Homo sapiens: one gene and its partners. The protein of the gene in region 2 interacts with the protein of the main gene of each other region in a pairwise test. Each region holds a gene or a part of one and is shown on either strand. Other genes may lie near its edges.

Region 1 (3,750 bases), on a different chromosome or scaffold from region 2:
CAATAGCAGCTGAAATGACAGGGATAGGGTGAAGTTTCTAAGATTTCTGGCCAAACTGCTTTCCAAAATTTCTTATTTTTCTGTTCATCCTCAAACCAAACATCACACTTCAGGGGTCACTTCAGAGACAAACATTTCAAGAAATGACAGTAGTAGGAGCAATCTTCAAAATTCCCCCTTAAGGGGAAATATTTAATTTGTACAGCATCTAATTAAATACATATTAAATTTTTAGCACTTTTCTCTTGCCTCTATGCCCAAAGTATTTCAAGATCAGCTTAAAATTCTAAGTGGTGCCACTCTCTGACCATATTCCCATTCATTCAGTTTTCACTTTGCAAAGGGCTTTCTAAAACCTATTTTCATGCTGTGCCTATGCCAATGAACTTAAAGACAGGAAAACAGTCCTCTGGCTTATCTGCCACACCTGTAGGAGCAATAGTGACACCTACTTCCAAAACTACCATACAAACGAAGCTTCTCAAAGTGTCCAAAAGCACATACATTTAAACAAGACCAAGTTCTTTTAAGCATTAAGAAGTGGTTTATCAACACCTGTGAAAAGAAGGGGAAAAAATGGGAAAAAAAAAAGTGGATTAAAATGCCATGATTGAGGTTTGGGAGACAACTGTCCCTAAGACCAAAATAAAGAAACAAGTGGGAACAGCATGTCAAAATCTACTTCCCTAATAAAGAATTACTGCTTTAAAAACTCAGGCAACAAAAATACAAAAAACAAAAACAAAAGAACAAATAAAAACCTCAGGCAGAACAGCACAAACTTGAACATGGAACGAAGTCATCAAACAACTTGCAGTCGAATGCCTGTGCAGAATCCTTTCCTGCCTCAAAGCCTGTAATTCCAACAGTAGTGACAAAAGAACCCTAGAACTCCCCATCTCCAGTCGCGGATGCACACTCTCGAGAGGACCCGGCGGCCAGGCACGCACCCGGGCAGAGATGAGGCTGAGTCACGCACAGGAAGGAACGGGTAGCTGGTGGACAGCAAGTAAGAAGAGAGACAGGAGCAGGGTGGAAGTGAGGGGCGGAGTAGGAGGTGGGAGAGGCAGGAGGCAACTGCTCATTTGGGCTCACGAGGGGCGGGGATCGGCTCTTCTAGGGCAGAAACTGCCAAAATGCAAGTCTTGGCGACTGAGCTCCCTCCGGGATCGGGGGTCGCAACATGGCCACATATATGACAAAAACTGTGTTTCGAAGGACTCTCCACCACGCCCCGGCCCGTCCCTGAGGGCTGGGGCGACCATGGCTCGGGACACCAAGCCCTCAGGCTGCAGCCCGCCCCAGAGAGGCAGAAAGAAGAAAGGGGAAGAGGGGGCTGTGGCCCCGGAGACGGCCCGACCCACATCCCCAGGGATGGGGACAAGGGCCCTGAAAAGCAAGGCCCCACCACCCTCACCCTCCGGCCGTCTGCCGCAGCCCCAAGACGCCCTTAGCCGCTCAGCCGCGGCTTGGCGCTCCGATCCCCTCTGGTACTAGCCCCCAGGACCCCAACACTCTCAACCCATTCCTCCCCCTCACCAGCTGCCGCAGCCACCTCCAACGGCCGCCGCTTTTTGGGCCGACTCTCACCGCCGGGGCTTCCCTCTCTGACCTCATTTCCGGTCTGGGCCGGAGGGGTGGGGCGGTGGCGAGTGGGAGGGGCTGGCTGCACGATTGGGCCCCTGACCCAGTGCTTCCGCCCGTGGCCACACCCACTTCCGCCCCGCGGTGGGCGGAGCCACAGGAAGCCAGGAGATGGGGCAGGGGACAAGGAGGGGTGTTGAATAGGGTCTGGCCGGGAAAGGGCGTCTCAGGGGTTGAGGTGCCCCACGTGGGGAAAGACCCCTGCATGCTGGCCTCATCTTCCTTAGGGGCTTCCAGAAATTGGGCGCTAGGCAGGGATGTCAGCTTATCTCTTGCTTTCTGACCTTTTTAATGGGTCTGTGAAGTTGAGGGGAAATGGATCTTAATGACGTCTACCCTGTGAGCTGGTACAACCTTTGGAAGAGGTTGTTTTGCACTGAGTTACTCAGAACATTTCAAATTGCCTTGAGCAATAAAACAAGTGATATTGGATTATAACTCAAAGTACAAAAGAAATATTCATGAGCCCATGCCGATATAAGTGATTGAATAAATTAACGAATGAGGAAGAAGAGATAAATCCCCCACAGAAGAATCTCAAATAACTTATGTAGACAGCCATCCTGCAGCATAACTTCTGCCTCCTTAAATGTGGGCTGTGCATAGTGACTTCCTTCCCAAAAGTACAACATCTGTAAAGGGGAAAATGAGTGATTTTACAGGGGAGAAACCTGGCAAACAGTAATTCAGCCAGGTGATCAAGACTATGTGCTAAATCATGTTGATAGTATGTGGAATGATATATGATGAGAATGGCACTTTATGGTACTTTCCTTCCAAATCTCATAACCCAGTCTAATTATAAGAAAAAAAAATCAGACAAACCCGAATTGAGGGACATTCTGCAGAGTGCATGACCAGTATTCTTCAAAATTGTTAAGATCAGCAAAGGCAAGGGAAGTCTAAGAAACTCAGAGCCAAGAGGAGCCTAAGGAGGCATGACAATGTAATATGGTGTCCTGGGTGTGACGCTGCAATTGAAAAAAGAACATTAGGTAAAAACTAAGGAAATCTGGATAAAGTATCAACTTTAGTTAATCATAATGTATCGGGCCGGGTGAGGTGGCTCACGCCTGTAATCCCAGCACTTTGGGAGGCCGAGGCAGGCGGATCACCTGAGGTTGGGGGATTGAGACCATCCTGGCTAACAGGGTGAAAACCTGTCTCTGCTAAAAATACAAAAATTACATGGGCATGGTGGCACGTGCCTGTAATCCCAGCTACTCGGGAGGCTGAGGCAGGAGAATCACTTGCACCTGGGAGGCGGAGGTTGCAGTGAGCCAAGATCGCACCATTGCACTCCAGCCTGGTCTACAAGAGTGAAACTCCGTCTCAAAATAATAATAATAATAATAACGTATCAATATTGGTTGCAATTGTGAGATGTGTTATACTTCTGTAAGAGTGAATAGCCTGGTGTGGTGGCTCACACCTGTAATTCCAGCACTTTGGGAGGTTGAGGTGGGCGGATCACCTGAGGTCAGGATTTCGAGATCAGCCTGGCCAACATGGTGAAACCCCGTCTCTACTAAAAATACAAAAAATTAGCCAGGTGTGGTGGCACATGCCTGTAGTCCCAGTCCCTACTCAGGAGGCTAAGGCAAGAGCATCGCCTGAGCCCAGGAGGCGGAGGTTGCAGTGAGCAGAGATCGAGCCACTGCACTCCAGCCTGGGCGACAGAGTGAGACTCAGCCGTCACAAAAAAAAAAAAAAAAAGTGAATAATAGGAGAAAGTGTGAATTACACAGAAACTGTAACAATCTTCATAATTTTTATCTAAACCCAAAATTATCCTAAAATAAAAAAGTTTATTTAAAAATATGCACATACCTTGGACCCTGAAATTTTGCCCCAAAGAATTGTATTCTAAGGAAAAATTGGAAATGGGCGCAAAAATGTTAAATATAGGTAAATCATCTCTGCAGCATTTCTGAGGGAGAGATGAGGAAACTAGAAAAAGCCAGAAGTTCTACAACAGGGGTTAGTTAACTAAATTATGGTACATCTATGGGTGGAATATCTTGCAACTTTTAAAAATTAATGTTGCAAAAGAATATTTAATGACATGAAAAGCCATCGACTTATGATTGTGTACATTTCTGCATG
Region 2 (3,252 bases):
AGTGCCTGGCATAACATAAAAGTACTACTGGAATGTTAACTGCTATTATTACTACTTTAATCTGTGAAGGATGCTACTGATGTAATTTTCTATAGGAGCATTGCAGAAGCGGCATCTAGTCTATGTTACACAGAATACAGAGTTGTAAAAACAGAGATGAATCATGTGGTTAGAGGTTGCTATAATAGAAACAATAGGTTGACCACGCTTTAGACATATTACACCAAAATAGCTCTATGCTACCCAATGTGCAGTTCGCGGTTAATCATATGTGGCTATTTCAATTAGTAAAGACGAAGTAAAGTTGAAAAATTCCGTTCCCTAGGTTGCATTAGCCACATTTTAAGTGCTCAATGGCTCCATGTGGCCATTGATTTCCAAGATGGACAGCGTGGGTAATGAATATTCCCATTATTGCAGCAAGTCCTGTTGGAAAGCACTGGTATAGATTATGTTTTCAGTCACTGAGTCATTTACGCTTTTTACAGTAAAGCCGTAAAAGGAGTAGAGGCTGTCCTACAGCTACTTCTAAGCCTCTCAAAAGGAATAAAACATTGAGTCTACCAGATTAGAGCAACTAATACCTCCAAAGTGTGTGTCAATAGAATGAAAATAATGGGCATAGAAAAACACCACTGAGCTGGGCGTGGTGGCTCACACCTGTAATCCCAGCACTTTGAGAGGCCAAGGTGGGTGGATCAACCTGAGGTCAGGAGTTTGAAACCAGCCTGGCCGACATGGAGAAACACCATCTCTACTAAAAATAGAAAAATTAGCTGGGCATCATAGTGCACCTGTAATTCCAGCTACTTGGGAGGCTGAGGCACTAGAATCGCTTGAACCTGGGAGGTGGAGGTTGCAGTGAGCCAAGATTGTGCCACTGCACTCCAACCTGGGTGATGGAGTGAGATTCTGTCTCAAAACAAACAAACAAACAAACAAATAAAACAAACCTACAAACCATCTCAAAAAGTTTAAATTAAAAAGAAGAAGAAGAAGAAGAAAACCAGTAAGGCACTGACTTATGCAAAGACACTGGCCGATATTAGCTTCTGGTCGATATTAGCTTCTCTTTCTGTAATGAGGTTTGTCTTGAAGTATGATCCTAGGACCCACATGCATCAGAATTGCTTGTTTAAATGCAGGCTCCTGGGTCTCATGTCAGATTTATTGGGTCACACTCTCTTGGGTGGGGTTGGTAATCTGCTTTTTTTTTTTTTTTTTTTTTTAAAGAGAGGGTCTTGCTCTGTTACCCAGGCTGGAGTGCAGTGGTGCCATCATAACTCACTGCAGCCTTGACCTTCTGGCTCAAGTTATCCTCCCACCTCAGCTTTCCAAATAGCTGGGACCACAGGTACATGCTACCATGCCTAGGTAATTTTTTTACTTTTTGTAGAGGTGAGGTATTGCTATGTTGCCCAGGCTGGCAGTCTGCTTTTTTTTTTTTTTTTTTTTTTTTTTTGGAGACAGAGTCTCACTCTGTCACCCAGGCTGGAGTACAGTGGTGCAATAACGGCTTACTGCAACCTCCGCCTCCTGGGTTCAAGAAATTCTCCCATCTCAGCCTCCTGAGAAGCTGGGATTAAAGGTGCACGATAGCATGCCTGACTAATTTTTGTATTTTTAGTAGAGATGGGGTTTCACCATGTTGGCCAGGCTGGTCTCGAACTCCTGACCTCAGGTGATCCACCTGCCTTGGCCTCCCAAAGTGCTGGGATTACAGGTGTGAACCACTGCGCCCAGCCTGCAATCTGCTTTTTTACAAACTGGACCTCCAGATAATCTAGCCATTGAAGAACCACTGTTCTAACATCCAGTGCTTCTCAAAACTAGCCAGAAGGACACATCAGTGGAGTCCTTTCGGATTAAGGCTACTGATGATGACCAGGAGTGCTCTATGGCCTTAAAACCCAAGGTTCGTCCATAAGGATGAGCAACAGTGAAATTTACCCCTTAGTTTAATTGGTTGTCCAGCTCGTGGAAGTTGACTTTTTCTTGTGTTCTGTATTTCTGTTCTCTGCAGAGGTTCACAGCCTCCAGCATACTCCGCACACACATCAGGCAGCACTCCGGGGAGAAGCCCTTCAAATGCAAGTACTGTGGTAAATCTTTTGCATCCCATGCTGCCCATGACAGCCATGTCCGGCGTTCACACAAGGAGGATGATGGCTGCTCATGCAGCATCTGTGGGAAAATCTTCTCAGATCAAGAAACATTCTACTCCCACATGAAGTTTCATGAAGACTACTAGCCCTGCCAGGCACAATGACTCACGCCTGTAATCCCAGCACTTTGGGAGGCAGAGGTGGGTGGATCACTCAAGTCCAGGAGTTCGAGACCAGCCTGGGCAACATGGTGAAATCCTGTCTCTACCAAAAAAATACAAAAATCAGCTGGGGGTGGTGGCACATGCCTGTGGTTCCAGCCACTCAGGAGGTCGAGGTGGCAGGATGGTTTGAGCACAGGAGACGGAGGTTGCTGTGAGCTGAGATCGCCCCACTGCTTTTCAACCTGGGTGACAGAACCAGACCCTGTCTCAAAACAAAACAAAACAAAAAAAATGAGTAGCCCTCAAGAGTGTGGAGACAATGTAAAAACAAGAGATTCGGATTCTCTCTATTTCCTTTTATGGGTTATAGAAGTCCCTGCAGTTGGCTGTGTGTGGTGGCTCACGCCTGTTATTCCAACACTTTGGGAGGCCCAGATGGGCGGATCAGCTGAGGTCAGGAGTTCAAGACCATGCTGGCCAACATGGTGAAACCCCGTCTCTACTAAAAATGCAAAAATTAGCCTGGTGTGGTGGCACATGCCTGTAATACCAGCTACTTGGGAGGGGAATTGCTTGAACCCAGAGGCGGAGGTTGCAATGATCTGAGAAAAAGGTAGCTTTTTCTCTACTATTTGCCTTGGGCCCCCAATTATACAATGCGGTCATCACGTGTTACATTTCTTTATAGAAAAGATTCTTATACAGAGAGGCAGATCCCAACATGTTACCCAGGCTGGTCTCAAACTCCTGGGCTCAACTGATCCTCTGGCCTCAGCCTCCCAAAGTGCTGGGATTATAGGTGTGAGCCACTGCATCAGGCCTAGAACAAATCCTCTAAAAATTCGCTTATCATACTGTGCACTTGGCAGAAACAAAAACAAACAAAAACCCCACTAAATAAATAAATATTAATTTAAAGCCAAGCGTGGTGGCACAAACCTGTAGTCCCAGTTGCTTGGGAGGCCAAGGCAGGAGGATCCCTT
Region 3 (3,750 bases), on a different chromosome or scaffold from region 2:
TGAGTCAGGTGGATCACTTGAGGCCAACTGCTGTTGGGTCAGCCTGGCCATCATGGTGAAACCCCATCTCTACCAAAAAAATACAAAAAAAAAATAGCCAGGTGTGGTGGCTTGCATCTGTAGTCCCAGCTACTTGGGAGGCTGAGGCACAAGAATTGATTGAACTCAGGAGGTGGAGTTTGCAGGAAGCTGAGATCATGCCACTGCACTCCAGCCTGGGCAACAGAGCGAGACTCTGTCTCAAAAAATGTAAGTAATAAATAAATTAGAAGCGAAGGAGTTGCAACTGCAAATCGGGAGGGTCGGGAAAGAGCTTGCTATGGAGACACTGGACAAAAACTTGAGGGAGGCCAGCTCCTCCAGTTGCAGCTGTCTGAGGGAGGAGTGGTCCAGGCAGTGCCAACAGCAAGTGCAAAGGCCTCAAGGTGGGAACAGAAAGGAGACAAGCAGCTAGAGCAGGGTGAGGCACTCAGGTCCTTGCAGGCCACCAGGAGGACGTGGAATTCCCTGCGAGTGTGATGGGAAGGCTGCAGGGCTCTAAGCAGAGAGGGGACATGCAGGTTTCATTGTAAAAGGACCCCCTCTGGCTGCTCTGCAGATACTGCGCTCTGTAAAGGTCAAGGGCAGAAGCAGAGTCAGGGAGTGACTGCCGCCCCCTCACTTGTAATTGGCCCTTCTTCCTCCCAGGTCCGGAAGGTCCATTTCGACACCCAGGAGCACGGGCCTCAGGCCATCACGGGGCTGGAGCCCAGGGAAGTGCCTCTGCTCCACCAGCAGCAGGGCCAGGACCCGCTGGAGCGGGAGAACTTCCGACATGTGAGTGGCAGCCCAGCTAAGGGCTTCGGGGTGGGGCAGAGGGGCCACACCCGCCTCTTCCTCCCACCTCAAGACAAGTATTGCACTGACTCACCCAAGAAGCCAGCTCAGGGTGGGCTCAGGGCGCCAAGAAAGATGGGAGAGCAAAGGATTTGATATTGGCTATTTCCAAAATAGCCTCAATGTGGCTTCTCGCGATTTAACGCTACTCCTCTTCCCCCAGCCTTCCTCCTCCTGCTCACGGCCCCTCCTGGTCTCGGTCCCTCTGGGCCCCCCACTCATTACCAGGAGTCTGGTGTGGGGTGTGACGTGGTATTCATAGTCACAGGGGAACTGTGCTTTGTGCTGAAATTCCTGGCCCTGCGATGTCCCACCCCACAGAGACTTGTGTCCAGGGTGCTGTACTGGCCCACACAGGCTTCCTCAGAGCACAGAGAACCGAGGCGCCACTCCACCGCCGCCACACGCCTTCGGGGCCCTGGTGGGTCAGTGCCCCCACTCCTCCAACCTCTCTGTTCCAGGGCCCACGCTTCATGACGTCGGAGTACAATTCCAAGTATCTCAGGGACCCTCTAGACCAGCCAGGTAGGCCCTGTCTGAACTCACAGCTCCCTTCCCATCTTCCAATCCACCTCCCTACTTGCTACCCCAGGGGCCCTGGAGCTGGCCTAGGACTGAGAAGGCACCAGTGGAAGAAAGAAGGATGCACAGGTGGCTGGAGGGAAGCGCCTCTCCCGGGCTGACCTCAGTACCTTGGGCCTCTCAGGAGGGTGGCTTGGCCGGTGCATGCCCTTCCTGCTGCTCCCTCTCCTGTCCTCCGGCCTGGACTCTGGAATCCTCACCCTGCCACCCACGATCCTCATGGCGCAGGTCTCCAGGATCTTGGGATCCACTCCCTCTGCACCTGCTGGGACACTGAGCCTCTGGAGGACACATGGGTGGGCCAGGTGGCCTGGCAGCACACAGGGCATTTCTTTTGCAGATTTCTTGCAGAAGAAATCGATCGGCGCAAAGGAGGGGAGTGGCTTCACCAAACAGTCCCACCAGAGCCCCATTGTCTTCCAACCGCCCTCACAGGCCCTCCCTGGGGACCCTGTAAGTCGGCTGGGCTCCTGCTAGAACTTTAGGGGGCTTGAAGCCCTCCAGTCTCAGGGTTTCTAGCTTTCCTAAAGAATGTGAGCTGCAGAGCCCTTTGTTCAAACACAAGACGAAAGAGCTTAGGTGAAAACCACTGCTTTGGTCCAAGTCCCCCATTTATAGATGAGAAGACTGAGGTCCAAAGAGATGAAGGAGGTGTAGCCAATGTCATTCAGAGTTCAGACAAGAGCCCTGGCCTGCTGGTCCCATTCAGAGTCATGCCTTCCCCTGTCTTCTCCCCAAACACTTCCCTTTTCTCAGTGATGCCCATTTGAGCTGAGTCCTCCTCTGTGCTCAGCACAGCAGTGGCCTGGAGGCAGAGTGGGTGGGAGCCACCAGGGGCCCAGGCTGCCTCTGCGGGGCTGACATCCTCTGTGGGCCTATTTCCAGGCCCTCCTCCCAGGCCAGAGTGTCACCAAGTCAGACTTCCTCCCCAAGACTCACCTACATGTAAGCTGAGCTAGGGGGAGGCTGGGGACCGCCTGGCGGGGAGCAGTTAGAACATGGCTCTGGAAGGTGGTGGGGGAGGCAGCCACATCCTGGTGCCAGTGGCTGCTTTGCTCCCTCCAGGGAGATGAGTTCCTACCTGTGTTGGCCAGAGGCTCCAAGCGGGAAACAGCCTTCAGCCGAGGGAATGAAAGGATTCTGAACCCCAGAGTGAGTGGCCTTGGCGTCTTGCTCAGAGAAGGGAGAAGACAGGGAGGTTTCTGGGAAGAGGTGGCATTTGGGTCAGGCATTGAAGAATGAGAAGAATTAGGATATTTAGGGATGTGGAGGTAGGCCCTCAGGTGGAGGGTGAAGAGAGCCTGGGCCTTCCTGGGGGCTGGAAGATGAGGGGTGTGGTCTGAAATAGAATTGGCTGGAAGGGGAAGGGAGGGTCGCTGGGGCTGTGGACAGGTCACAGCTGTGTGTGCCTCTGCCTGCTCCCCTCTCCATCCCTGCTGCCTCAGGCTGGCCACCTCAGCCTCCCTTCTGGTGGTTCTGTGCCCTGCAGGTGCCCCCTCCCTGCCCAGAACCCAGCAGCGTGAGTCACCAGCAGTTTCAGCCACTTCATCGGATGCAACAGACAAACGTTGCCCTGCTTGGCCGGGAGACTGTGGGGAAAAAGGTGAGACTTGCTACACCTAGCCTCCACCCCCAAATCCCCACCCCTTCTGACTTGACAATTCCCCTGTCTACCCCTCTTGTGCAGGAGCCCACAGGGTTCAGCCTTAACAACCCCATGTATGTCCGGAGCCCCTGTGATCCTGACAGGGATCAGCGATACCTGACCACCTACAACCAAGGGTGAGGTCCGCTTCCTGGTCCAAAGCTGAAACCCATTTGAGAAACAGACTGAGACTGGGATAAGTAATGAGCTCACAGCCTCGTGGAGAAGATCAATGCTGAGTGAATATGGGTTCCCCAGAAGCATACCCTAAGCCAAGGATTGGAGTGCAAGCATGTTATCAGGCAGTTATTAGGCGTGTGGGAGTGGAGAAGAGGGATGAGGGAGGGAAGGCAGCAATAATGAGCATGTTACTAGGCCAGCTATCCCACTGGGAAAACTCTAGAAAACAGTGTAAAGCACACAACTCAGAACTACCCCAGTCAAAGGTGAGAGAGCTGGGGTATTTATACCCCCACATCCATCGGTCATTGGTTAAAGGCTATCCCCAGGGCAACATTAAAGCCCAGGTGCCTCCTTGCTCAGGCAAAGCAGCTTCTAGCATCCCAAGGGTAGCTTTCCCACAGAGATGCAGGGCATTGGTGGCCAGGCTGGTGGGCATGGAAAGAACAGGGCAGTGCGAGGGAGTC

Evidence for each region.
Region 1: the proteins of PRDM14 (region 2) and GPATCH2L interact in binary tests that used the Homo sapiens proteins (3 or more experiments, as listed by UniProt).
Region 3: the proteins of PRDM14 (region 2) and SAXO4 interact in binary tests that used the Homo sapiens proteins (3 or more experiments, as listed by UniProt).

Annotation. Positions count from the first base shown.
Region 1 is NC_000014.9:76,149,781-76,153,530, reverse strand, and holds the start of GPATCH2L (G patch domain-containing protein 2-like), read right to left. Parts: upstream 1,610-3,750; 5' UTR 1,540-1,609; intron 996-1,539; exon of another isoform or gene 791-995; coding exon of another isoform or gene 762-790; intron 1-761.
Region 2 is NC_000008.11:70,051,076-70,054,327, reverse strand, and holds the end of PRDM14 (PR domain zinc finger protein 14), read left to right. Parts: intron 1-2,023; coding exon 2,024-2,251; 3' UTR 2,252-2,677; downstream 2,678-3,252. UniProt on the Homo sapiens protein: Transcription factor that has both positive and negative roles on transcription. Required for the maintenance of embryonic stem cell identity and the reacquisition of pluripotency in somatic cells.
Region 3 is NC_000011.10:61,484,001-61,487,750, forward strand, and holds part of SAXO4 (stabilizer of axonemal microtubules 4), read left to right. Parts: intron 1-687; coding exon 688-816; intron 817-1,337; coding exon 1,338-1,401; intron 1,402-1,798; coding exon 1,799-1,911; intron 1,912-2,343; coding exon 2,344-2,403; intron 2,404-2,523; coding exon 2,524-2,610; intron 2,611-2,947; coding exon 2,948-3,061; intron 3,062-3,145; coding exon 3,146-3,240; intron 3,241-3,750.